Homo sapiens: one gene and its partners. The protein of the gene in region 3 interacts with the protein of the main gene of each other region in a pairwise test. Each region holds a gene or a part of one and is shown on either strand. Other genes may lie near its edges. The genes, in order: SNX19, PTPRT, PTPRN and TRDN.

The links.
Region 1: the proteins of PTPRN (region 3) and SNX19 interact in binary tests that used the Homo sapiens proteins (3 or more experiments, as listed by UniProt).
Region 2: the proteins of PTPRN (region 3) and PTPRT interact in binary tests that used the Homo sapiens proteins (3 or more experiments, as listed by UniProt).
Region 4: the proteins of PTPRN (region 3) and TRDN interact in binary tests that used the Homo sapiens proteins (3 or more experiments, as listed by UniProt).

Annotation. Positions count from the first base shown.
Region 1 is NC_000011.10:130,906,455-130,913,481, forward strand, and holds part of SNX19 (sorting nexin-19), read right to left. Parts: intron 5,318-7,027; coding exon 5,179-5,317; exon of another isoform or gene 5,085-5,178; coding exon of another isoform or gene 4,997-5,084; intron 3,917-4,996; coding exon 3,816-3,916; intron 3,684-3,815; coding exon 3,564-3,683; intron 1,992-3,563; exon of another isoform or gene 1,907-1,991; intron 1,630-1,906; coding exon 1,499-1,629; intron 268-1,498; coding exon 171-267; intron 1-170. UniProt on the Homo sapiens protein: Plays a role in intracellular vesicle trafficking and exocytosis. May play a role in maintaining insulin-containing dense core vesicles in pancreatic beta-cells and in preventing their degradation. May play a role in insulin secretion.
Region 2 is NC_000020.11:42,073,886-42,080,912, forward strand, and holds part of PTPRT (receptor-type tyrosine-protein phosphatase T isoform 2 precursor), read right to left. Parts: coding exon 6,994-7,027; 3' UTR 1-6,993. UniProt on the Homo sapiens protein: May be involved in both signal transduction and cellular adhesion in the CNS.
Region 3 is NC_000002.12:219,299,377-219,306,403, reverse strand, and holds part of PTPRN (receptor-type tyrosine-protein phosphatase-like N isoform 1 precursor), read left to right. Parts: intron 1-2,572; coding exon 2,573-2,669; intron 2,670-3,566; coding exon 3,567-3,828; intron 3,829-3,912; coding exon 3,913-4,267; intron 4,268-4,684; coding exon 4,685-4,816; intron 4,817-5,426; coding exon 5,427-5,461; intron 5,462-6,144; coding exon 6,145-6,419; intron 6,420-6,617; coding exon 6,618-6,704; intron 6,705-7,019; coding exon 7,020-7,027. UniProt on the Homo sapiens protein: Plays a role in vesicle-mediated secretory processes. Required for normal accumulation of secretory vesicles in hippocampus, pituitary and pancreatic islets.
Region 4 is NC_000006.12:123,542,927-123,549,953, forward strand, and holds part of TRDN (triadin), read right to left. Parts: intron 5,687-7,027; coding exon 5,528-5,686; intron 4,447-5,527; coding exon 4,414-4,446; intron 1-4,413. UniProt on the Homo sapiens protein: Contributes to the regulation of lumenal Ca2+ release via the sarcoplasmic reticulum calcium release channels RYR1 and RYR2, a key step in triggering skeletal and heart muscle contraction.

The DNA of each region.
Region 1 (7,027 bases), on a different chromosome or scaffold from region 3:
TTCCAAACCACTTAGAGAAAATACTTTTAGCATAAAAGCTGGAGATCCAAACGTTGATTAAGTCATTTAGCAGGACATTTCTGACTTCAGAGAATATCTCAACTACCTGTAACTGCAGGACCAACATCTCAGATATTTTTGCCTCACATTCTCTGGGTTTTGGTTCTTACCACATTGCCTTCCTGGAGACAATAAAGAATCTTGTCTTGTGCTTCAGTCACACTTAGTGCTGGAGAAATTTTACTGGATGAGAACCTCAGCCTAGACCTGGTACAGAAACAAAGAGCAGAAACAGGTTGTAATTTATGGCCTTGAGCCTCACACTAAGGGCTGGCAAGTACTGATAATAAAACACAACAAGAATATCCATACTTATTCTGGGGAGCTTACTGTGGTCAGAGCTGCCAGGAAAGACTCGGCCCTGCAATCCCCCAAACAATGTATATTCTGGCAATTCTTGATAGATAATGTTAACGCATACACTAAGCTATGTCTACAGTGCACTTGTGAAATGGTTTCTGCTAAGTAAAACTGGCATCAGTGTGTATTATGGTTATATTCCCACAGGATAGATTAGCTAACACATAATAGGCACTCATTAAAAATTTGCTGAAGATTAAACAGACAGGTGGCATAGAGCAAGTTTTCATTATTGCTATTCATGGTGTATCCTTTTTGGACATCCATTTTTTCCCCTTGTGTTCCAAATAAAACCAGAAAAGGAACTGCAAGTGATAACATCAATGTTTCAAGGGACAGAGACTCATAAGCAGAGGTATCATGGTCATCCCTCAATATATGGGCCCAGTTAAGAAAAGGTTAGGTACTGTGAGTCTGTTATTGCTGGCCCATGAAACATAAGCACAGAGACAGAGACACACACACATACACACATGCTCTCTCTTTTTTCATAAGGACCCAGATATAGATGAAATTTCCAGTAAGGGTACATGTGGTGCCCTTGCTTGCCACATGTTGGCTTTGAATGCTGCCAGGGAACAGCTAGGGCCCTAGTGCAGGAAAGAGTAGCAGTAGTCAACCAGTTACTAAAATAGGCCCTGCAGGTTTCCATTCTAACCCTTTCCTCTTTATTGCTAATATATGCAACTTCTGAGCCAAGATTTCCAGAAATGATGGCAAACAGAGATCAGTTATAAGCCTTAATTCTTAGTAGGAAAGAAACATCTCAATTTTCCAGGAAAAGAGGAAAGAGAATATCCTAGTCAAAAGAGAATATTCTTCCTAGTCAAACATCCCTGGTCAGTTGGGCCCCAGGTTCCCATGGCAAAACCAAACATTCAGCAGTGCTGCCTCTGCAGCACCGCAGGCTCCTCCGGGTGGAAAACTGAGGAGCCTGGGGTCTAGCTTTGCCTAAAAACTGGTATGTCTGACCCACCTCCTTTCCTCTAGGGCTTGAGAATAGGGTGAGTGTTGGCTGAGGATTGGGGATCAATTTGAGAACTGGGGAAAGGTCCCTGGGTAACTGAGGGCTTCTCACTTGCTAGCCTTCTTGCCTTCTGTCTGGGGCTTGCTTTCGGTCTCGGCCTCACTCAGCTCCTCTGTGGGGCTCTGGGGTTCAGAGCGAGGAAACGCTGTCTTCAAGGTGTCCACAATGGCACTCACCACCATCTGCAGGGGTCAGAGGTGCAGGGTCAGTCCATCCACATCCACAGATGGAAACCGCCAAGCAAGCAGTCGCCTCACAGCACTTTATGCAACAGGACAAGGAGAGGGGCCAGGCTATCTAGCAAAGCCTTATCCAGTAGGAAGGTCGAATACCAGCTAATGACTTAGTGCCAACTATCTTTCCTTTTTTCCATGGCCATAAAAATCTTTTTCCTTGAGGAGTAAAACAAACAACGCCATGGGAAAAGAAGCCAAAACCAATAGTGAGAGAAATAAAAACCTGAGTTCTGCGGGCTGGTGATGTATTTTTCAATTTCTTTCTTTTTAAGTAAAAAGGTGATTTCTAGTTTCCAAATCGGTAACACCTTCATCAAGATGTGCATCAGTGGAAGTACATAGGTAGGAGTATAAAGAGAAAGGAAAAGTGAAGAAGATGATCAAAAATAAAAATAACAGTTAAGGGGCATAGTAATATTAACATGCTTAGAGTAACTTACACAGAGCAAACAATCAGTTTTTCTAGTCAATTCAAACAATTTCTCTTCTTTAGGTACAGAAAGAATAACAAAGATCACTCAGGTCAAAACTAAGATATCTGGAGTTGAGTTGTTATAACTTATCTACTCATACAAGACCAAATAAAATAATCCTCACTAAAGATTAACTCCATTTCTTCAGAATGGCAAAATGACATACAGATATTTGCTAAAAAGGACAATGTACAAACAAAACCTTAAACTATCAAAGAAACAGAACGAAACATTTACTCTTCCTCTGGTGCTTCTTGCTAACTAACACTGCTGGCTCAGAGCAGCACCATGCCTTCTTTGACTCATTCTTGTGGTATTCCTCCATAAGGAGTAAGCTAGCATAGCCAAGACAAGGCTGAAGAGAGTGGTCAGCAGACTACAGTAAAGACTGGGGGAGAACAAACCAGGGAAAGAACACTTGAGGATGCATGCATTTAGATAATGCAGCTTAGAAAATACAACTTGTTCTCCAGGATCACAGAACTGTAGTCTGTGAGGGTGGGGAGGTCCTCATCTGTCTCATTCACTGATGTATGAACAGCAGCTGGTAGAGTGTCTGGCTGAAAACAGGCATCCAGTAAGTAGATGTGGAAATAATGGATGAATGATATCTGCATGGAACTCTGGGCATTTACCCAGTTGATCCCTTTTTAGTTTGTAGTTTTTTCCATAGCAGTGGATATCCCCTAACACCTACTACATGAAATTCTATTTTATTTGTTGCTCCAAGCCTAGATGAGAAGAGGGAGGCTACTCTTCCGCCAATGTGTCAGTGTTTCCCAACCCTATAAAACACACATCACTTTTGATAAACATAAGCCTCAGACTTCTGCCCCAGAGATGCTCATATCAGTTGGTAATCACTGCTTACAAGCTCTGACATGTTACACAAATGTCCTTCTTCCACCATCTCCATAGGTGCTGAGATAACCTCTTGAAAAAGATACAATTCTCTCCATACTCTGTTCTCTAGCGGAGAACCATGACACCACTCTAAATCCAGCCTCAGGTCGTCTTAGGCTCTCTTTCCTGGGTGACCCAACACTGGAAATGAACTTTACCCTCTGAAAGACCACCCCTCATGCCAGCTATCTGTGAAGACACAGATCAATCTTCACATGCCTCCAACAGTACAACAATATAATGATACCCCCAGGAGATATGTGTACACTTAAGAGTGTTGGGGTACTGTTTCCCAGCAGCTGTTTCCTGTGATTCAGCAAGCTGATGATTCAACCAATATTTGGCAACAGGTCTTGACAATTTAAGTCCATGTTCTATTGACGGCTCTGTGCTGCCCCTTCCCACACCCTACTGCTCTTATTTTTCAAGGACTGCCTCCATTCTGATGAATCCTCCCCATTTATAGATCAAAACTAAAGCTGAGCACAGTGGCCCTGCTGGTACCTTGTCTATTCTAGAGACCATAAATGGTTTCTTGACAAAGGCAATACGAGCATCTGTGTTCAGAGCAAGGAACTCCTGCACCTCCTCACTGTTAGCGATCTCCGGAATGGCACAGAGTTGCTGCAAAAGTAAAACACACACACATTTTAAAGAGAAATTCCAGTCCCCAAATCTCTCCACCTTGGCTTGGGTGTTCTGGGGTTAGACACCCAGGTTAAAGTGAGAACAAGGCCAAAAGAGAAGGATGCTGACCTTTAGGAATGATTCTAGGAGGCTCTTACGGGCTTCTACTCTGTCACTGTCCATGTTTCCCAATGGAAGATCTGGAAAGAGCTTTTTAGGACCCTTCACATCTTCCAAAAAAAAAAAAAATCAAAATATTCACTCATTTAACATTCACAGAGAGCTATTCCATATAAAACATATAAAGAAAACAGAACTATTGAATATATTTCCTTGGATTAAAAAAAACAATTTCAGGACTTCCAAATATACATACGATCCATATGATCCATATAACACTAAATTGTTACAAGAGAGGGCTCTGAAGTCCAGAGACCCAAGTTTAAATCTGGGCTCAATCCCTACTATAATGATGATCTTAGGCCATTTGTGTTATCTTTCTGACTCTGTTTCTCTTCTACAAGATGAGGATAATGAGGGCACCTATCTCACAGGCTGACGGGAGCATTAAAAGAGCTAATACGTGTAAAGTGCTTAGGAGAGAACCTGGCGCATATTTTCAAGCTTGGCTCAGTATTAGCTATTGTGTTAAGAAAGAAAATACATAATTTATGCCCAAACTTATTCAACTATTTGGGTAATCATTTTTAAAAAACAAAGTAACCAGTTACTAATCCTTAAGAGTGAAATTTTATTACATTAAAAAATATTTGGCTGGGCGTAGTAGCTCACATCTGTAATCCCAGCACTTTAGGAGGCCGAGGTGGGTAGATTGCTTGAGGTCAGGAGTTCAAGACCAGCCTGACCAACATGGTGAAACCCCATCTCTACTAAAAATACAAAAATTAGCCAGGCGTGGTGGCGGGCGCCTGTAATCCTAGCTACTCTGGAGGCTGAGGCAGGAGAATCGCCTGAACCTGGGAGGCGGAGGTTGCAGTGAGCCGAGATTGCACCATTGCACTCCAGCATGGGGGACAGAGCGAGACTCCATGTCAAAAAAAAAAAAAAAAGGTTCCCCATGCCTGAGAGTTGTCATAACAGCACACAAAAGATCTGGGTGTTAAGGAAAGAAGGTGGCAACAACTTCTGTGTAATATTTTAATATTTAAGAACCACCAATCTATGAATCTGGAAAAGTTAATTTAACTCCTCACACCAACTTACAGGCACAGGTGGAAATGTGAACACTTATTTTTTAATCTTAAACTAGATGGGGCTCCAGAACAAAGCAGTTGGCAGTAAAGGACTACCTCTGAAAGAATGTGATTGCTGCTGTCCAGCACTAAACTTCAAAACTCCTGAAGCAAATCCAGGGAGCAGAGAACCTTGAAACGGCATTCTCCTCCCCGATCCCTCCCATAAACCAACAGGCCAATCAGCGTGGCTCGACGTGGGAAGCAAGCGGGCAGTAGGGGTTGGGGAAACTCCTGACTTTTGATGAACTTTCGTAGATCTGGTTTCTCCTCCAGACGGGTCTGCAGATTCAAGAACTCCCGATAGCGACGATTCACAGTGTGGTAGGCCAGCTGCTGCAGGCCGCTGCTGTTTTCACCGTCAAGGGCTGTCTCGTACTGTTCAACGAACAAATTGATTGACTCAATCAGCCGGGTTTCAGCAATCTTCTATTCTGGCTTTACTGACTACTTGGTCAATGGCCACATAGCAAGAGTACGAAACTAAGAACAAAGGGAGGGAGTATGTTCCTATTCTGTTCCAGAACCTCCTATATCTAATTGCTTAGAAAGTCAGAAATGAGTTTCACTCCTCCGCACTACTACTTTCATCTGAAAGCTCCCTCTCCCAGATACTTTCTTGACTTATAAAAATGGCTACATAACTGTTTTTCAAATGAATATTTGAATAGAAGGCATAACATCCATAAAAATGATACTGCCTCTATCACCTTTAAATTACAGGGCTAAACATCATAAGGGGCAAACCATTTTTCCATTATACTCTCCCGTGATTATTTATATTAGTTAAGGGAAGAAGAAGTAATCCAAACAGCAGATATAAATCATTTGTTTATCTGGAATAAATTAAAGGGTATTTGTTTTGTTTCACGCAGATTAATTTTCCTAATTGTTATTCTTAGAGCTAAACTGAATTTTTCCTAAGTACGTATCATCTGTATCACAGAAGTCACATGAAAATTGGAGATGTGATAAGGGGTCAAAGTCCACTGTCTTCCTAAGCTTAGAGGGCTGGTATGTGGAAAAGACGACTTATATCTCATGTTCCCCAAAGAGTGAATACCACGGATGGCATGGAATCTGCAACTCAGCATGGGGGCACACTTCTTGACAGGGTAGTTAAGACACAATGAAACGCTGTGGGAGAAGTATATATGTGCGCCTTCTCATTAGGAATGGGCTATTATTTTTCGGTTGAGGTATACTGTGGGCAAGAGGTGGAAAAAACTACCTCCTCGTTGGTGGGAGTTGTGGCTGGTGCTTTACAATTTTCTGGAGACAGGGTATTCATTATGAGCTGATGTGAGCAAAGCAGTCCCTCAGAACAGCACTGAGAAGGAAAGACCAAGTAAGAGCAACAGGTGGCATTCAGGGTGGGGCTCTCAAGCCTGGAGCATTTGGAACTATGAGGCTTTCTGTGGAATATGCTGCTCCTCGAGGGCCAATTTTCAACACCGTTATGGTTACTTCCATCACATAAACCGAAAACTATTTACTATCAGAAAGTATAATAATATTGATATACAATTTAAAATCAGTTATATGTCCATATAAAAATCTAAACCCAATTTCAAACTACTCATAATTGGCTATATTATTTCGTTCTCATTTTTTACTTTACTCTTTTCTAATGCTTAATTGAAGCAGTAGCAGATGTCAAAATCTAGCCAACAACAAAAAAGAACAAATAATGGGAGAAAGACTGGGAACTTAAACATTCTATCCATCAACTTAATTTTTCTGCTAATGAGGAGGGAAAAAACCTGCTGTTTTATGTCAGTATTGGAATAGTCATTAAAAAAAGATGAAATAACCAGAAGCCAACACTTAAATGTGAGAAAGGTGCATGGCATAGGGGCATCCAGAATTAGAACAAAAAGGCAGGAAAATGTTAACAAAGTTATACCAGTCCTTTGAGGCTAGTCTCAGTTATTTTATGACCAGACATCTGTACTTCTACAATTTGCCTATAATGAGTGTGTGTCTGTGTGTTCACCCATATGCATTTCTAATTACTTCCATTCCGTCTTACTTGAAAATGTCATAATGTTACTTTCTAAAATGCTATGTCATGATGCAGCTGTGTTG
Region 2 (7,027 bases), on a different chromosome or scaffold from region 3:
CTCTTCCCTTTAAAGAGACACCTGCCTTCTTTTAGACAGCTGCTGAGATGGGCAGCTTATCCTCTCTGGCAGACAGCAGGTTCTTCCTTACAGCTATTAAGTTTCACTCATGGGTCCTAGTTATACTCAGAGGAGTGACCTGGGTCTAGCAAACTGTGCTTGACTTCATCCAAGAATCTGCAGAGCTATGGAAGATATGGACACCATATTCTGCCTGACCCCTCAGAAGCCTAACTTTACATGGAATGACACCACTCTGCCCTCTAAGCCTCCAGACTGCCCTGGGGCCTTTGACCCAAAGAACACCTGACATTATTCATCTTCCATGGGAGATACAGGGACAGGGTGGACACTGAGAGTTTGTTGGACCATCATAGAGAAGGCCCACTGATTTGTATTCATAAGCCCAAAGGCACTGAAGTAATTGTACAGAGACTCAATTTTGTAATTTTGGTGGTTTACTTCCTATGACCCTTTCTCCTCCACATCCAAGAGTCCTGCTCACTAAGGAACCATGAACTACATTAATTACCCTGAGCTCCAGGCTTTTATACTGATACTTTTCTGTCCAACACTTCAAGGCCACCAGACACTCATTCTCCGAACATTCCAATTAAGGATCAGAGTCCACATCTCACCACCCAGAGCAGTTCTCAGATATAGAAGGAAGCCCCATAATGATCAAGCCCCTAAAACTCTTCCCAATAGATTTTCTTTCATCCTGAGCCCTTGCACTTCCCTTGTATCTGCCCCAGTGGACCACCCCTGAGCTCTTAGATAGGTGGGATGCTAGGTTTGGAGGCTACCATTGTGAGTGTTGATGCCTCCTTTTAGAGACCTAACATTCATGAGTGGATTTCAGTTGGTGAATGCCCTTTGATGACCTTTTCCCATCTCTTCTGGAGGTGGGCAGGTGGGATGCAAAAGACTGGCTTGATCTCTACAAGACATCTCTATAGTCAGTGCCATGCAAAAGCCCATCCCTGGTTACTAAAAAACTAGAAGAGTCTGCTCATGTGCACAAATATGGCTTAGATATCTCTGCTGTGCTTCGGAGGATCAGATCCATGATCCTGAAAAATGTGTCAGAAGAAACTGGAGCTAGAACAGCTCCCCCCACACTCCACCACTAACCTCTCTCCCTGCTGTTCAGTCTATGACCTCAAAGGCAGATCCCTGCAAGACAAAGCCAAGGCCTTGCATTCTATCACTTCTAGACATGTATACATGGAAAACCTCCAACAGGGAAACTTTGCATGGGAGGAGTAAACAAATCTGAATCTCAGCTTGTCTCTTCTAGTTGGATTTACTTTTCCTATTTCCTTGTTTTACTTGGCTGTGATTTGAAGCTGGTCACAGGCTAAGAAGGAGCTCAGACTGTTAAGTAATGGGGAAGCCAAGTCAGGGATTTGAGATGACATGACTATCCACGTTTATGTTTTTTTTCTTCTAACCTACCCTCCAGTTGGGTTGACCATTTTTTTCCCTGGGGATCCTGGCCCAGCACAACCTGTTGACATGACTTAGGAACAGCGTCCTGTTCATGCTTCCTCTTGGGCTCACCCATGTCTTCCAGAGTGTTACTCCTGGTTGAGCTTGGTGCTGATGACCTGTTTACCCAGCCCAGGAGTGGCAAGCTGCAGCCTAAGGAAGGGTGGCTTTCTTCATTTTGTCCCAAGGCAGTGAGGTACCAAGGAATTATCATTTCCTTCAATGTCTCTGGATCTGGGTTGGGCAGTCACTCCTGCAGAGGTAACAGGATAAGGGCCTGGCTGCTACTCCCTGGGCCTCACTTCTGTTGTGTAGAGCAGTCTTACTGGACTGATACCTCTATGTACTCTAAGGGGTTCCCACCAGCGACGAGGAAATGTAGATCCTGGTGAGGACTTACAGCAAGAGCTAGTGTGGCAATGGGGAGTGGAGGATGAATAAACATGATGGGTCAGAGGGAAATGCATCATCTTTTGCCCCAGACACTGAGATTTGCCCTTGTTCCAAGTGGCTCTGGCAAGCTGTTACCCATCCTTTCTCCAGCTATGTCACAGAAGTGACCATTTTGCTAAATAAGTCATCTGCATCCTCGGTTCTGAGTATTCACTGGGTTCCAGTTTCCTGGCCTTGCGTTCCTGTTTTCCTGCCTAAAGTGCTCCAAATCTACCCCTTCTAATGTTGATGAGGGTCCTTTTTTCATGTATGTTTTTCATGTATGTATGTTTTCGTTCAAACTAAAGACTGAGCTCTGTCCACCACAACCCCATGCCTTACCCAGGAATTAATTGTGCCATAGTAATCTCGATTTCCTAATAGTGCCCCCTCCAAGGTGCTAGGTGCTGTAGGCACCCAGTAATTATGTGTGGCTAGGGTAAAGTGAGGAGCCTTCCAGACCCCAGCTGCTCATGAAGTGTGTCCTCAGACTTGCCCACATTAGCAACCATGTGACTCCACTTGGACAACAGGCACCACTTTCCAGCCTAGCATTCAGGAATCTGCTGAGTACAGCTGTGTCCAGCTTCTCTTTTCCCTTTAGGGTTTTGTGGGCTCATCCTTCTCCACGCCAGATGAGCAAATCCTCATCATTCTAGTGTGAGTTAATGGGTTCCTTCCAGCACCCAACTGGAAGATGCCTTAGTTGAGGTCCCCTCATGAACAGTGAGGTCAGAGCACCCACACACCAAAGGAGCTGCCTAGGAGAAGGTCAGTTGGTCTTGATCTTGAGCCTATAACTGGCTCTGGGAGGCAGCAGGGTCACTGCTCCTAGAGTCAATTCTAGGGTCAAGCTGAAGACCAGCTGACCTAGGGTCCGTCATAGCGGGGTGAACAGAACAGAACAACATGAGGAACAGAGCACATTTTTTTTTGAAATATTCATAGAGTCATATTAAAACCAACAAGGCTAAATCAGAAAGTGGAATGCAAATTTTGCATGAATTGTGAACGTAAAACATGAGACTATGAAGGAATTTTAAGCTTACTGTTGTTTGCTTTGAGCTTTATCCACTGACGTATCTGTTCCACTCTAGTCTCTTCTGTTATGGGTAACCTCCTGGGAAAAATGTGAGATACAATGGTGGAAAAATATTGTCTCTGTAGTGAGAAAAAACCGGTTTAAATCCTGGTTCATTCACTCACTAGCTGTGGAACTGTGGGCAAGTGATTTCTCCCCTAGGAGCCTTAGTTTCCTCATCAGTAAATGGTGACAATCACAAACCCTCCTTTAGAATGCTGGAAGAATTTAATGAGCTCACATGTTAGAGTCCCCAGCATAGGGTCTGTTGGTTCCTTTGCAGGCCACACCCACAGAGAGGGCCAGCACTAAAAGCAAACTGTCCCCTTCCATTCCCACAAAGAGAGGCCTACTGTGGCCTTCTAGAGGCCCAAGGACCCCTGGTTGGCCCAGATTCTTCACCCCAGAAAGGATGCAATGTTGGAGTGCAGCTAAGATACATCCTGAAGCTATTTAGGCCATAAACACAGGTGGAGAAATTTCCTGGGCTTCTCATTACTTCCTTGCATCTTCCCCAAACAGAGCCCACATCTATGAGGTAAGAGCTCCTGTTGTAAAGACTCAGAGAGCATTAATAATATTTTCCTCTGCTCATGACAGGCTGAGCTCACCCTGTAAATGGGGTGGGGTGGGGAGACCCCCTGGGGGTGGTGGTGTTGGCTCCGGAGATTTCCTGGGTAAAGGAAAATGTTCAAATTCCTGGGCACTGGTGCCCCATCTCATCCAAGCCTTGCCACATCCTTGTCCCATGGGATCTTAGGGAAGTCATCCCCATCCATAAGCCTCAATTTCTTCCTGTGTGCACTGGCCTAAGACCTATTCACTGTCCTGCTTTAGAGAATGGTTGGGTTGTGGGAAAATAAGGGGATGAGCTGGGGGAAATCATCACTGGCCCTTGCTGGGTTACCCCAACATGGCCTGAGATTTTTTTTTTTTGCAAGTTTGTTTCTCCCTGAAGTCACACCTTAAATTCCTACCATTTAAAATGATAAAAGCCACTGTCTTTTGTATCTGCCAGCTATTTCACCCCTTCCTGAGCAGAAAAAAATCTTAGGATTTGTGTTAAATAGCTCTCCCTCCACCCTCATCCTGTCTGGATGTACCAAGATCTAAGAAAATAGCATACAGCAGGCAGATTTGCCATGCTACAGGCTCCTTGCAGGCTGGGGAAGGCCAGCTGGGGCATTGGGCTGGAGCCGAGGGAGGCCAGCAGGCCCAGTGGGGGTGGGTCCCCGGGGTCTGCTGAAATACACCTGGGGAGAGGCTCATCAAAGGAAAAGAGCAAGTTCATCGTGGGGTTCCTTTGCTTGCCTTTGCTTTGAGGCACTTCCTTTTGAACCTCTAAAGTGACAGCCCTTCCTTGATCAAGTCTGGTGTCCCTGGACTTCTGGACAGCTCCAGAGCCCATGCCAATGGAAGCAACTTTTGTCGGCTCCTTTCATGTTCCATCCTCATGGGCCTGGAGATCTGGGTTGGTGACCCTGCTCCGTGGTAAAGCAGAGACCCTGGGTTTCTCATAGAATCTGAGTCTCATGATCCATTGCATATTTAGTTCCAGCAACAAAACAATGAGCAGACAGACAAATAGATGTGATATTAAAAAGTGCACGCTTAAGGGAATGTTTTCACAGTGTCTGATGAAAGGAAAAGAGGCAGCCCCATTGGCCCAGAAGGAGTCTTGGCCAACACGAAGCTGAGTGCATCTCTCTAAAGCTCCATGGACTCCTTGTTGCCAATAGGACAAAGTCTGTACTCGCGATGGGCATCTGTCTCCTGGACCCTGGCTCATCTCTTGCTGCTCCCCGTGTTGTGCTGTGCCCGCACTGGGCTGGCCTCCCCCAGACTGCTTCTCCCAATGCCTTTTCACATTTCTTTGCCATTGCACATATGGATCCCTTTGCCTGAGTTTCCTTTTTTTCCTTTTTATGCTTGTTAAGACCCAGCAGGAATGGACGTCCCCTTCTCCAGGAAGCCCGAGGCCGAAGAGACTTTCTTGCTCCTAGGCTCATGGAACACTCATCCACTCCACACTACTGCACCATGGTTCCATTTCCCCAGCATACAGTGGGCTCTTGAGGGCCAAAGCTGTACCTTCTTGAATTCTCTGCCCCTCATGCCCTGTCTGGGGCTAGACCAGCCTTCAAGATGGAGCTTCCTAGGTCCCAGCCCACCTGAGGCTGTCAGATATTGGGCCTAAGCACTGGCTAGAGATCAAGGTCGAGAGTTTCCCTGGCTGGTCCATTCATAGCCTGAAGGAACAGGGAATTGTTTTTACTGACTAAGAAATTAGATGAGACTGGCTTTCCTGGGGAGCTGGGAATGTGTTACTAAAATATATCTGAAATTCTGCGCTTCCCAGAAGAACTGGCATCAGGAAGAAAGTACTAAATTTCCATTTGTGGAGTTATCTGCTCAGAAGTTTCTGGCCTTATTTTCCCTCCATAAAATAATTGCTTGGCTTAGAGAAGATGAAGAAAACAGCACGGAGAAGTCTCATTGCCATTACCTGCCCCTTTGGAACCCAGGATTTCATTACTAAGGAAGGTGCGTGGGTTTCCTCATTGGAGGAGATGATCAAATGGAGATGATAACAAGTCAGTAGCTCTCTCCTGGGGGTTCTAAGGACTGTGTGAAATGTCCTATGGAAAGTGCCAAGCATGATCCCTGGCATACAGTAGAGACTTAGCAAATGTTGGTTCCCTCTCATTGACTCACTCACACTTTGGACAAGACCCTAGATCTCCAGGCCTGATTCTCTTGGCCTATTTTAAATCAAAGTATAATGGGCTCCACAATGGCCTTTTTCAAGGTGGCTGCTGGGTTTCTTTAGGAAGGAGTTCAAATTTGGACATCCAAATTATGCACAAAGCTGGTGCTCTATTTGCCCCAGAAACCAAAGGGACCATCTTCAGGCTCACCCATCTCTCCTTGCTCAGTGGCATGCTGTCCCAGGGTGGGAGCTTTTAAGGACATTGCCAGGAAAAAATAAAAGGCCCGAGAGATTTGTCTTAGAGGTACATACTCAAACTCCCCCGCCCCCTTCTTTTTGACATAAGAGACTAAGATTTTACACCCTCCAAAAGAAAGTTTCTTTTCACATACACTTTGGAAAATAATCAAATCTTATCTTGTTTGTCTCTTCCAAAGAAAGCTACCACCAAAGAAACACAGGGGTTACATCCTACAGGTCAGCCCAAGCCCTGCCCCAGGGAGGTGGTCCCTTTTTACAAAGACAAGGAGGAGCAGAGAAGTTCCCTGCAGTTCCACCCCCTCCCACTGACCACACAAAAAAGCAAAGAACACCTTTATCAAAAACTGCTGTGGACACAGCTGGCCGGCCAGTGAATGCTGGACGGTCAAGGCCCAGGCTGGGGAAGGGGTACAGAATGGTTGTGGGCGAAGCCCCATGCAGGTTAGGTGTGAGGATGGGGGGCCTCTCTTGTGGCCTAGGGAACATCGTAAGGTCACACTGGTCCAGACTGCAAATGTCTGGTGCCAGAGGCCCCTGAAGGAGGTTGCAGGGGGCAGCAGAGCAGTGACCCCCAAGAGCCTCAATCTTTTCCATGACGTAGAGGAGCAGAACACACATCTCCTCCACTCCTAAGGAGAAGGAGGGCAGGGGAGCCTCCCACTCCCCAGCACCTGCACAGTTGGCTTGCCAAGAGATCCACAAACTCAGAACAAAAGCAGGTGGTCTGGGAGCCAGAAATCCAAGGCCTTGCTTGTGGGTGTACTTCTGCTTGGGCCCTTGGCTGTGGCTGGTTAGGTTGAAAAGGAAGCCTGGGCCTTTTGGAGCAGCATCTCCCACGGCAACAGGAGACCCCTCAGAAGGTGCAGAGCCCCCCGTGGAACACAGGGCCACCAGTCTTCTCCTTGGAGTCAGGCAGGGTGCCACCTCAGAGCTCCTGAGCCCAGTTACTGCCATTCACACAAAAGGGGGCTTGGTCACAGCAGCCTCTGGACTCCGGCAGGTTCCCCATCCCATTGAGCTAAAAGGAGCTTAAATATTCCAGTGCCACCTCG
Region 3 (7,027 bases):
TTTCTTCACTTCTCTAATAAACTGCTTTCACTTTACTAAAACAAACAAACAAAAACTACCACAATAACTCAGATAAGAGATGAATGTGGATGGGGCCAAGGTGATTGCAGGGAAGGAATGAAGGATGAGAGAATTCTGCATTTATTTTTAAGGTAGTCAGCATTATTTCGTGAAATATTGGATATGGTTATAAAGAGAGGAGTCAAAGTTTTTTTGGGTTTATTTTGTTTGTTGATTGTTGTTGTTGTTGTTTGAGACAGAGTCTTGCTGTGTCACCCAGGCTGGAGTGCAGTGATGCAATCTCTTGCTCACTGGAACCTCCACCTCCCAGGTTCAAGTGATTCTCCTGCCTCAGCCTCCCGAGTAGCTGACATTACATGTGCGCGCCACCATGCCTGGCTAATTTTTGTATTTTTAATAGAGACAGGGTTTCACCATGTTGTCCAGGCTGGTCTTGAGCTCCTAACCTCAAGTGATCCATCTGCCTGGGCCTCCCAAAGTACTGGGATTACAGGTGTGAGCAACCGCGCTCAGCCAGGAGTCAAAGGTTTTATTTACTGAATAACTGAATCAGTGGAGATGTCACTAATTATAATGTGGAAACTTGCAAATGGTTCAACTTGGTGGGGGTGTTCAGCTTTGAATATGTTGAGTTTAAGATGTCTACTCAAGTGAAGCAGGAAGTTGAGTACATGAGACTGGATTCTGAGAGACAGAGTTCTCACCTGGAGATATAAATTTGGAATTCTTTGGCATATAGATGGTAATTACACCCATGAGGTGGATGAGATAACCAAAAGATTGAGTGTCTATTAAGAAGACCAAGGATCAAGTCCTAGATAATTCTTCTATTAAAAGGACCAGGCCAGGTATAGTGGCTCACACCTATAATCCCAATACTTTAGGAGGCTGGGGCAGGCAGGTCACGAGCTCAGGAGTTCGAGACCAGCCTGACCAACATGGTGAAACCTTGTCTCTACAAAAAATACAAAAATTAGCCAGGCATGGTGGCGAGCACCTGTAATCCCAGCTACTCAGGAGGCTGAGGCAGGAGAATCACTTGAACCTGAGAGGCAGAGGTTGTGGTGAGCCGAGATCGCACCACTGCACTCCAGCCTGGGTGATAGAGCGAGACTCCATCTCAAAAAAAAAAAAAAATGAGGACCAGGATAAAGAGAGGAACCATCAACTTCCTCTCAGGGAGACTGAGAAGGGGAAGCCAGTGGAGTAGGATTAAAAACAACAGTGTTCAGTGTCCCAGAAGCCAGGAGAAAGTGTATCAAGGAGGAGGAGTGACCAACAGTGTCAAATGATGATTACGGGATAAGTAAAATAAGATATGAAAATTGACCACTAGATTTGGACATGCAGACAAAGCTGCTCTTGATGAGAGCAGCTTTGGTAGAATAGTTGGGAATAAAATCCTGAATAAAGTGGATTAAGAGGGAATAGAAAGAAAGGAATTGGATACAGTCAGTATAGACAACTTTTTCTAGAAGTCTTGCTGCAAAGATATGGAGTGATCCCTAGAGAAGAAAGTGGGATCAAGCAGTATTTTTCTTAAGATGGAAGAAATTGCATATTGTTTGCATGGGAATAATGTGAATAATTCAGTAGAGAACAAAGGAAATTATGTAGGAAAGAAGAGAGAATTGCAAGGAGAATGTTCCTGAATAGGTGAGAGGGGATGAAATCTAGTGCTCAGAGGAACTGGCTTTAAATAGGAACACAGACAGCTCATCTAATGTGAATAAGCAAGGAGGCAGGTGTGGATGTTGGTAGATACCAGAATACAAGTTAAGAGCAGCACAGATTTTAAATCCAGAACTAGAGAAGAAAAAATGAGGGTGAAAAGTGGGAAATTATTCCTTTAGAATAAGTGACTGAACTTTCCTGAGAGCAGAGTTTTTTTGGGGGAAAGAGTCAAACAGGAGAGCTGTCTATGAATAAGATGATGATGATAATGGTGATGATGATGATGATGACGACAATGAAGATGATGATACATGTTTAAAACATGTGGATTATGCTTTAGAGTTTTCTAAGCACTTTGATTTCCCTGATCACACTTGATCTTCACAACAGCCCCCTGAAATATGTATCGTTTCCACTTTACAAACAGAGAAAGTTGAGGTTCAGGGTCAACACAAAGAATAATAACAATAGTAATAATAATTATGGTAATAGCATTTGTTAAAAGTTCACTACATGACAGGCACTATTCTAACCGTTTGATATGTATATGTGTTATTTTAATGATAATAACAATCCTAGGAGGTATAAATCCCCATTTTATTGATGAGGGAATTGAGGCTTGGAGAGGTTCAGCAACTTGCCCAAGGTTACATAATTCATCAGTAGCAAAGGCAGGATTCAAACCCAGGTGGTCTGGCTCCAATAGCTGTACCTGAGGGTGGGAAGAAGACAGCTCAGATCACCCACTGAGTTTGTCCCTCTACTCTGACAAACCCCATGAGCTGCAGGGCAGAGGGTACAGTTCTGATCCCCAGTGGTCCCCGTTACTGGATCCCCAGACTCCTGAACCAACTTACGCTGTCCTCTTTCCTGACAGGATTGTCCTGGCACGATGACCTCACCCAGTATGTGATCTCTCAGGAGATGGAGCGCATCCCCAGGCTTCGCCCCCCAGAGCCCCGTCCAAGGGACAGGTAGGCAGCCTTTCTCTACAACTCTAGCAATGGTGAGGCTGATGAATCTGTGGTTGTCCTAATTGATGGAGAGAAGGGGAAGGAAGTGGGCACCAAGGCCAGCATGCTGGGGCACAGGTAAAGAGGTGCAGGAATGGTCACTCTCTGACATGCTCACATGACCAAGAGGAGCTGAGCTCATCTCTAGGGATCCAGAAAAACGGGCATTTTTTGAATGTTTTGAAAAACATTGACATTGGCTACTTTAAAAGAAGCATCAATGTAGTCATCATGGGAGAAATTAGAATGCTGTTGGACTGAAGTTGTTCAATATTCCATTTCATTACTATGTGAATTTCTATATGACAGGAGCCACCATCATCTTTTTGTGGTTAGGGCCTCTAAAGGCATCATTCAGACTGCAAAGCAGAGGAAAGTAAATGAGGTTTAGGGAGCTCAGATGATGATACCAGGATGAAGATGGCATAGTGGTGGGGGGTGGAGGAGCAGTCCTGAATATTTGGACATATACTTGGAGAGCCAGGTGTGGGGACATGGCACACAGGGGCAACGGGGACAGCTGCAGCCACAGTTCATCTAGAGAAATTCCTGGTTGCCTTCCCCTGCTCCTGTTTGCCCCTTCTCCATCCCCAGCCTCATGATTACCCAGCCTTTGCAGTTGTTTCAGAGACTCAGCCATGCTCACCAGGGAGGCAGATACCTCTGCCCTCAGCTTGGCCCTCTGGTCCCTCCCCATTCCCACCCAGCCCATCTCTCTTCCCCTGAGGTCACTCAGTTTCTAAAGAGGTCAGGCCTGCTCTTAACCGCTGAGCCTGCCTGGCCCCGAATAGTTCTGCCTTGCAGGCTCTCTATGCCCTTTCCCCCGCTCCAACACACACACTTTGCTTTCCTCTACAGGTCTGGCTTGGCACCCAAGAGACCTGGTCCTGCTGGAGAGCTGCTTTTACAGGACATCCCCACTGGCTCCGCCCCTGCTGCCCAGCATCGGCTTCCACAACCACCAGTGGGCAAAGGTGGAGCTGGGGCCAGCTCCTCTCTGTCCCCTCTGCAGGCTGAGCTGCTCCCGCCTCTCTTGGAGCACCTGCTGCTGCCCCCACAGCCTCCCCACCCTTCACTGAGTTACGAACCTGCCTTGCTGCAGCCCTACCTGTTCCACCAGGTAAGTCCTTGACTCTGGTCCCACCCCAACCGCAGTCCCTCAGCCCGGACTTCTGCTCTTACCCAGATCTCTGGTTTTCCACAGTTTGGCTCCCGTGATGGCTCCAGGGTCTCAGAGGGCTCCCCAGGGATGGTCAGTGTCGGCCCCCTGCCCAAGGCTGAAGCCCCTGCCCTCTTCAGCAGAACTGCCTCCAAGGGCATATTTGGGGACCACCCTGGCCACTCCTACGGGGACCTTCCAGGGCCTTCACCTGCCCAGCTTTTTCAAGACTCTGGGCTGCTCTATCTGGCCCAGGAGTTGCCAGCACCCAGCAGGGCCAGGGTGCCAAGGCTGCCAGAGCAAGGGAGCAGCAGCCGGGCAGAGGACTCCCCAGAGGGCTATGAGAAGGAAGGACTAGGGGATCGTGGAGAGAAGCCTGCTTCCCCAGCTGTGCAGCCAGGTAACAAGGTCCTCAGCATCCACCTCCCTGTGAGGGCTGCTTTGGGGGAACCATGGTGGGGCCCTTCCCTGACAATCTATGCGTTTGTTAACTTGTCCTTAAAGTCATTCATACATTTAAGGAATGTCTACTGACAAGCTGTTCTATGCCAGGCACTAGGGAAGTGGTGGGGAGTGGAGTTGACGTGACTCTCCTTCCAGTGGAGAGTCAAGATGTCCTGAAGTTTGATCTGGGTCCCAGGAAGAACTTTCCCCCAAAGTGTGGACAAGGGCTGGGAAAGGGAGGGCATCTCTTGGTGTCCTGGTGTCTGGGAAGACTCTCTTAACATGCTAGTCCCTTCCCACCCTCACTCACTCATCTGCATCCCTCAAGTTCACTGCGCAATCAGCCCTAAGCTCTGTGTCTGGCTCCCAGCAGATGCGGCTCTGCAGAGGCTGGCCGCTGTGCTGGCGGGCTATGGGGTAGAGCTGCGTCAGCTGACCCCTGAGCAGCTCTCCACACTCCTGACCCTGCTGCAGCTACTGCCCAAGGGTGCAGGAAGAAATCCGGGTAAGTGTCCAGGCAGAGGGAGGGACCAATATCTCCCGGCTCCATGGAGGCCTCTTGCCCTGCCTCGAGACCACTTGGAGTAGCCTGGAGAGGAAGAGTCAGGCTTCAGGGGAAAGAGTTCCTTTGAGACATAGGGTCATTGCCAGCAAGGCAGGGAGCAAGGGGGTAGGGTGGCAAGCTTAGGAGTTAGATCAGGAAAAGACTAGATGGTGGAAGTAATGGAAAAAGCAGCCAACAGAGGGTGTGAGCAGGGAAAAGGAGGCATCGGGAAGGATGGGTTGGTGACAATGAGGGCCTAAAAACGGGCATAGCCAGTACTAAGAAGAAGCCAGTAATTGATGGGTAGAGAAATAACTGAACAAAGAATAGCTTTGAGAGAGATGGCCAATGGTAGAGGGAGGAGTTAATAAAACAGTAAATTGGGAGGAGGAAGCAAAAAGGAATGAGGCCAGGCTTAGGATGAGACCAGTAACAGGGTCTTGGTCACTGACTGAGATGAAGACCACAGCAAATGTTCCAGGCTCAGGGTCTCTGGCCCTTTCTCCCACTTGTGTTGTGTAGACCTTGGCCATGGCCATTTTTCCAGACTCTTGTTTTTCCTGTCTCGCAGGAGGGGTTGTAAATGTTGGAGCTGATATCAAGAAAGTGAGTCCCCAGCACCTCCTTGACTCATAATCACCCCATGGCAGCACGCCCCCTTGCCAAACCTAAATTTCAAATTCAGGACCTAGAATCTGTATCCTCCCACCCCTCATTTTGGGGGAAACCAAGGCCCAGAGACCGCAAGTTATTGCCTAAGGTCTCCCATCAAGTTGATGGCAGAACTGGAGCCAGAAAACTGAATTCTTAATTCATTCCTCTTTTCACTACAATCATTTCAGACCATGCTCTGAGGATTCCTAGGGGAGGAGGGAAGTTTCGAGCAGAGAGCCCTTCCTGAGCTTCTGTAGCAGGAGGAGCTCTGCTTCTTTCTGTTTCATGTGTTGGATTTCTAAGACTTTGTGGCTAAACAAAAGTCTAGAAACCATCGCCTGCCTGTTTGTCTTTTACCCTCACCCCAGCTTCTCTTGCTGCAGGGGTTTTCTGTCTCCAGCCCCATTCTGTGGATTAGTACAGACCATTTTCAATCATTCAATCCTTTATTCATTCATGCATCCACTTACTTGTCTCAGATGCTCTGGTGTCCTCTCTGTACCCAGCACTGCAGTGGTCCCTGGGGGTAGAAAGTGAAAAGCAGGTCCTGAGCTCCACTGTGGAGAGCTCCGAGTCCAGGGTACCCCTTCCCCCAGCACTGTCCAGAGGCCACACCTCCACCCTCTTCTGAACAGACAATGGAGGGGCCGGTGGAGGGCAGAGACACAGCAGAGCTTCCAGCCCGCACATCCCCCATGCCTGGACACCCCACTGCCAGCCCTACCTCCAGTGAAGTCCAGCAGGTGCCAAGCCCTGTCTCCTCTGAGCCTCCCAAAGCTGCCAGACCCCCTGTGACACCTGTCCTGCTAGAGAAGAAAAGCCCACTGGGCCAGAGCCAGCCCACGGTGGCAGGACAGCCCTCAGCCCGCCCAGCAGCAGAGGAATATGGCTACATCGTCACTGATCAGAAGTAAGGGCTGCATCCTGGGAAGCTTTCTGGTCTGCTAGGATTTGGGCTGGCCTGCCTGGCCAGAAGCAGAGGGCAGAAATCCAGACGTGCAGGGACAGGGAATTGGCAGGCTGCTCTGTACCCCTGGAGTGGCCTGTTTTAAGAAAGTGACTGAGAGGGTTGCCCCACTTTCCTTCCTCTGCCTTCTCCCATCTCCAGGCCCCTGAGCCTGGCTGCAGGAGTGAAGCTGCTGGAGATCCTGGCTGAGCATGTGCACATGTCCTCAGGCAGCTTCATCAACATCAGGTGGGGCTGGCATCTTGCTAGGGCAGTGGCCGAGATCTAGAAAGCAGCTTGAGCAAGGAGGTGGCTGGAGGGGCCTGCGGGAGGAAGAGCAGACAAGCTCTGAGCTCAGGGATGCTCCCAGCTGTACTGAAGGTACAGCCACACCCAGCCCGTTGCTGGCCCCACCCAGCATCTTCCTTGCCTAAGATGCCCCTGTAGGGCATCCCCGATCTGCTCCAGCCCCATCCTCTAACGGGGAGAGGGCCAGAGCTGGCCTCTTTTTTGAAGTCTGCGGTCTGGGGTGGAGAAGGCAGTAACATAGCTCCTATCTGGCAGTGTGGTGG
Region 4 (7,027 bases), on a different chromosome or scaffold from region 3:
TAACTTTGGGTCTTTATGAATAATTAAGGGAATTAAAATTTATATTTCTAAAAAATAGATATCATTACTATTATTCACATTTTCATATGCTTTCAGTTCAATTTATTAATAACATCATATAAAGATTTACCCTCTTCTTTATCAAATATACAATGCCCCAACTATTCTAGCTTATTTACTGCCTTATTTGATCATGTATTCATTAAATTTTTAACTGTGGTATTTGCAGGACATTTTACTAAGTAAGGTGATCTTTTACACCTTTGCAATTACGTAAGCTATAAAATAACATGTTGCATTGATCCTGATGCTAGCAATACCACATCAAAACTCCATTACTGTCATTTACTATTTTATTTAATAAATGTTCATCATTAGTCTTTGGGAATGTGGTAAGCAAATAGTACATGTTCTCTTCCACCAGCTCATTGCTTGGCTCATAGAAAACACTTGAAAAAGATTAATTGAAAAAAATACATTTGTTGATTGAGTTTAATCCCAGAAGGCATAAAACATGTCCGAATTCTGTATTAGTGATTAGCTAAGGATATACATTGTACCGTCGTGAATCTTAGACCTCTGTGCTTTGCTCTCACTCAGAAACCTAGGAGTTACCCAGAAAGCAAAATGTTTATTTTCTATTACAATCATGCTCAATTTTTTCCCTTTTATATTTCTTAGAAATTTTGCAAAACTCTGCATCCCTTCCTACAAGTTCTAAAATTTTTCATCATAAGTTGAAGGATTACAAGTGATATAATTTATAGATTATTGTAAATGTTGACATTTAAAAATAAAGTTGCCATATCCCTTTTAAAAACTGAGTTGATGGACTCCAAACACTATAATATTTTTAGATGTCATTATCAACTTAAAATATTTATCAAAAAATTATTTCTTAACATTTGGAAGGTTTTCATCTTTCTCTTTTCTCTTTGAATTCATATTTTCATTCCACCTCTCTCACGAAAATTTTACCCAAGAGCTACATTATGATTCTCTAAGGAAAAAAGTGTACATATTGAAAATTTTAAATTTCCTCCATATTCTGTGATTTCACATCCTGTAATATATTAACCTTTAGACTATAAGAATCTAAGAATCTAAAGGTTAATATATTGCAAATCTTCATAAGTTATTATTAAACCTGAAAAATGAATTTTTTTTAGAATGCCATCGAATGAATGGAGCTTTAAAATCACCTATCTGTGGATTAATGTATTTTACAGTTAGAATGAGACAGCGTTCATCAATAAATCTAACCCTATATTTTACTTTTAAAGATACAAGTATTGAGAAGCCTTATGCACATCTGTACATACACACACACACACACACACACACACACACACACACACACACACACAGTCTTATTGGGGCAATGTTACTTAATTTTTTTGTCTCCTTCCAAGTAACGTTGAATACCACAAAGAACCAACAACAGATTTATTTATATTTGAAGTGGAAATAGTACGGTTATAAACCGGGCATGCTCTCAAGCAGATCAATTTTAGGAAAACATTCAAATGACATTCAATTCCTTTAAATCTCTCTGCAGTTTTATACCCCTTAGAAAGTGAGGTGCTAACAGATCCATGATGTATACCCTGGTGTGAAAAATATTGCTTAAAAGCACACTTCCAGATGTGCAAAGTATACCACTATACACAACAAATAATTTTTTCCGAAAATGTGATTTATAACAGTATTTGGTTTTCATACTTATAATTTTTAGACAACTATGTAATAAAATATAGTATTTTCTAAAGATTCAGTGCCTTGGGGTCTCATCATGAAGTGTTTAGTAATAGAACTTAGTATTTTAAAATTTTGACAAGTTGAAAAATATGCATGAAGAATATAAAGACACTAGGTACTACATGTAATACCCTGAAGCTATATTTATATATAACAACAGATTCCACAGGCTAGCAGAATCAAATATTTCATCCATATTAATAATCTGTTTAATAATCAATACTGCAACCCTGAGATTAGTCGACTACACCATTATTCCATACCAAATTAAAAACTGCAAACTTCAACCATAAATAACAAACTGGCTGAATTTTTATTTTGTTAAGAATAGCAGTAACTCAACAAATAAAACTAAGTGTATTCAAATAAAATGTTTTAGGTAGATATAGGGCAGTTGAATAAAAAAATGCTACAGCCTGATAATTTAGGCAATAAAAAATGACTAAATATTATTGAATATATATGAATTGAGAAGGGTATTAATGAAGAGTCATTTAGATGTGTAAAAATCAAATGTTTTAAAAGACTATCATTCTACATTGCCCCCAAATTCCTTCTTAAACCAACATTTGTAAATGTAAACATGAGTAAAATAACTTATAAGACAAGAATAATTTATAGAATTTCTCCCCAATAATAATGTTAAAAGTATACTTAAAATGTAGAATATGTATTATAAATGTTTTATAAAATATTACCTACTGCTTTAAAGCTCTCATTGCCTCTATACTTCCATGAAAGAAAAGCTTACACATAAAAAATAATAATTACAATGAAATAGATCTTCTTGAATTCACTTTCAACTAAGGTTTATTATTACATAGCCTCTGTACCCAAGATAGAGCATCTGAGATTTTTACTTAAATGTCAATTTTTTTCATGTAACTGTGTGAATAATACTATTAAGAAAATATATTCAGGTGATTTAAAGTCAATTCTCCTAATTCTGAGTATGTAATCTTTAAGGACATTAGTGCACATGTGTTGAAGGACATATATCCCTTAGACTATTTTTGACTAATAAACATTTCTAACATTTTTTAAAAGTACCCTAAACAACTATTTAATAGTTTTTCTGGCAAAAATTTGATTTGCTGAATCAAGGAAATAATTTAAGAAACAATAGTAAAACAGCTTTGTATGAATTTGCAGTTTATACTAATTACTATATGAAGCTTAATTTTAAAATAATTTCAAAGAAAAATTTAAATCAAAAGAAAAGATTTTTTATTAAATAGTAAATATCAATTTATGAAAAACATGGCTTTATAATAGTCTTATGGAATTCAGTTTATAAGTATAAATGAGCAAACATTATTTATCTGTTTTCCCTTCTTCCATTTCCAATGAAAATAAACGTGCATAAGCTGTTATTTCCAGATAATGACTAATAACTCACTTAAAGCTTGACTATGTTCACTCTCTATGGGAAATCAGCTATAAATCTCTTGAAGTTTATAGACAAATCTAGAATCTCTAAACCTGGATTTGATGGCTGAAGTCTGTCTTGAGTACTTGAGTTCTCATTCTGGATTTGCAGGTGTATAAACCCTTCCTTTCTCCTCACAGAGCTTTATAAACACTTTCATTTCTGGATGCCTTTGCCATAGTTGAGTTTGACTGGCTTAGCTCTTTTTTGCTGTGTAAGTTACAAATCCAAAGTTTCTAATTTAACATACACTAAGTGGATTTTACCCCAGATAGTGTGGGGTAGTCATCATTTTCTCAGGGAAGGCTGAAACTGTAAGTTTGGATCCCATTGTTTGAATCCACAGTAGGTATTAGGAGAGAGCAACAGAAGCCAGGGTTATCTTCCTGGGTAAACCCTCAACAGCCTGCCCATGTGTAGCAGTAACTAAAACACTGCAATTGTTTTAAGTCTGGCTTGAATGTTGGCTGTTTTCTCACAACAAATGTACCTCAAGATGGTACTACCTGCTCCCCAGTGCCCCTTCCAGATGCAGTTCCTACCCCTTCCTGTCAAAATCTCTGTCTTCTGAAATTCCTGCCCCATTGCTGTCCTCCTTTGTCCTAGGTTTATCGTTCTTATCATTCAGGTTGTGACCACTTCACTCAGTCACCTTATCTATTCCTGCAAGTAATTCCTCTACAGCACATCCAGGCACATCCAGGTAACTCCACTCCATGACAGTGACACATCACACATACCAACTGGATATGCCTTTGCCTCCTAGGCTGTTATGTCCCTCACCGTCTTGTTGTCCTGGCCCATAGTCATCACCTAACATGCAAAATAATGATGGCAAAAAAAATAAAAGGAAAAGAATAAGAATAAACATTTAAAATCAATAAATCTGACCATGGTGAGAATAAATCATGGGTGTCATTTTCTGGGCCATTTCTAAGGCTACAGAATTCTCCCCTCATTCCTCAAATTCCAGCTCATATTGGTCTGTGTATAAATGAATCCATACAAATCTACTGAATAAGGCATTTAAAAAATAATCAACAGAAAAGTAGTGAGATCACCTTCATTGGAAAAGAAATTGAGTATTTTTTTTCTGACTATAAATCTTGACCTAATTATTAAACAAAACCTTTATATTAAAATAAGTAAAATATATTTGAACCATGCTGAAAACCAATATTACCATAAGAGAAAAATAATTATTATCAAAGGTGAAAACAACTAACCTTTTTTTCTCAAGGGAGGCTCATCTATTTCTCCTAGACCAAGATTAAAAGAAAAACAAAGTTAGAAAATATTTTAGCATAGAATAATATGACATCATTATTTTCCCCTTTTGTTTATTTAAAAAAATCTATTAGTTTTAACAATCATAGTCTTTACATTACTTTGCTTCCCAAATTCCAGTTTTTAAGTATAAAGTTTGTTTATATACATTTATATAAGATTGTTTCATTTTTATGAATTCAATAAAATTGTGGCAGTGATCCAAATTATACATTATAGGTTATATATCATATTAATTTCAACTCTCTATTGTTCATGTTGAACTCTTACTGGGGCCAAAACAAATATAATTTCAGGAAAAGTTATAAAAATACTCTAATAATAAAAGCTTTCCTGGTAGTCAAGGCTGAATACATGATTTCTGATGACTAAGACTGACCCTAAAAAGTGTTATCTAATAGATGGAATCACAGTGCTTTGTTCTTTTCATACTCATTCAATGGCAGCTTTTATGTGGTTTGAGATGGCTATTTCCTTTTATTCATTAATATATATGAGAGAGCACATAGGTTAGTTGCATAATTGTTAGGACATTTAGAATGTGTCCTTCTATTCTACACCACCATTTGGTCCAATAAATTTACTCTTTTGATTGTACTTTTAGTAAGATTGCTTTCTGCTATTTGACTATAAATATGACATATGTGTATAAAACACTTATATGTATTTTTAGTTTTACTGTTTTTATTTTAATCTTCCTAGAGATAAACTTGAAAAATAACTATTTTTTCCAAAGAAGCATATAAATGTGAGTTTGTATTGTGGTTTTATAGCAGAGCATAATGAGACTCCCTTTGCTGTAATGCTACATTAATATTAACATTTAATTTTGACATCTTTGCCATAATGGTAGATAAGCTATAAGATGAAAATTAAATAAAGAACAATTTACTGTGTTTGGCAGCCTGTTGATATGCTTTTAGCAGTCAGAAGTGTATTCATTTTGGTTTAGCTTGACCCAAGTGCTCATTTGAATTTAAACTGAGGCAAGCCACTATAATACATATTTAATGTTGCTCCTAGCAGTTAGATATATCTCTATGTTCTTTGTACCTTTATCAGTATCTTCGTCACCATCATCATCTTCTTCATCTTCAGATGAGATGATGTCAGATAACAAAGAAAAGAAGCCATAGATCCAGTCCGTGGTTTCCTCCATAGCATCACGTACCAGTTTTAAAGGATCTGAGCCAATCTTGGCAATAGAGCTTGCTAAAAGTAATTAAAAAAAAAAAAAAAGAAAAAGTTTGTGATCATTTCCAAATAACTTAAGAAAAGCTGTTTTTACTGATTTGTTGTTTTGACAAAAAGAATATGTCAATTTCAACATTCTAAATATCTCCTGGCTACAATTTTTTGCGCAGAAATAGAAACTTCATCTTGCTATAATATGCATGCATGCCAAGAAAGAAAATGCCCTTGGGAAGTTTATAATCCAAATAAGAGTTAGCACTGGAAAAAAAATTAGGAATGAATTAAAATAATGTGTATTTATGTTACCCAGAGTGCAAATAAACCCTATGTTATGGATGTTCAGGAATGGAAGAAATAATTTCAGCACATATTGTATGGGACAGCATTATAGAAAAGATGACTCTGTAAGTTTTCAGACAAATAACAAGTTCTGCAAGTTGACTAAGGTAGTTGTGGCTAAATTAAGACTGATAGGCCCATTTATTCTAATTTGTGATACCACAGGAAGAATCTGGAATAGTCAAGTTAGTGATCATATCAAGCTCTAGTTGGAATAGGTTGGATTTATCTTAGTCATCCCTGTACATGAAATAAAAAAGTATTTGAACTGCTAGTAACTTCAATGGATAGAATCTATAAGTCTTCCCTTTTCTATGTCCTAGGAGATATAAAATGTTTGCTAAATGAAAGATTGAATCATAAAAAAATGCAAACAAATATATTAGGGATTTCCAAAATTTTATTCTTCCAATCATATGAAAACTGCTCTGAAGAGGCAAGCATAGCCTTTAGGATGTGATTACAGAGGTGATCTATCTAGAAATATGGTATAAATTGCATCTGATTTTTTATCAAGCTGTAATTAAATTTTAGAGCTGTGTTTTCCTTAATTTTAAAAACTATTTTAGCTTTTCAGAGATTTTTCTCTCTTTGATATATTTAAGAGATGAGAATTATATCAATGTATTATACTACCTAAAGGTTAAGTACATCTAATTAGGCTTTTACTGTGACTAACATAGTAAGTCATTGGAAGATTTGAGCAGAAAGATGAAGTGATTTGACTTCCTTTACTGTGTTGAAGTTTGAAAGGGTGCCAGGCTGGGAACAGGGAGATGAGTATGAAGCCAACTGAAATCATCCAAGAGAAAGATGATCATGATTTCTATCAGGGTGGTAACAGTGTGTGTGGTGAGATGCAATCAGATTCTGAATGTATTTCAATGACAGAATTAATAGTAGAAGCTTCCAGTGTGGCTGTGATGTGAGAGAAAGACAGAATTCCAGGATAACTTCTAAGTTTTTGGTGTGAGAAACTAGAATGAAGGAAGGAAATGCTCTGAGCTGGGGGAGGACTGG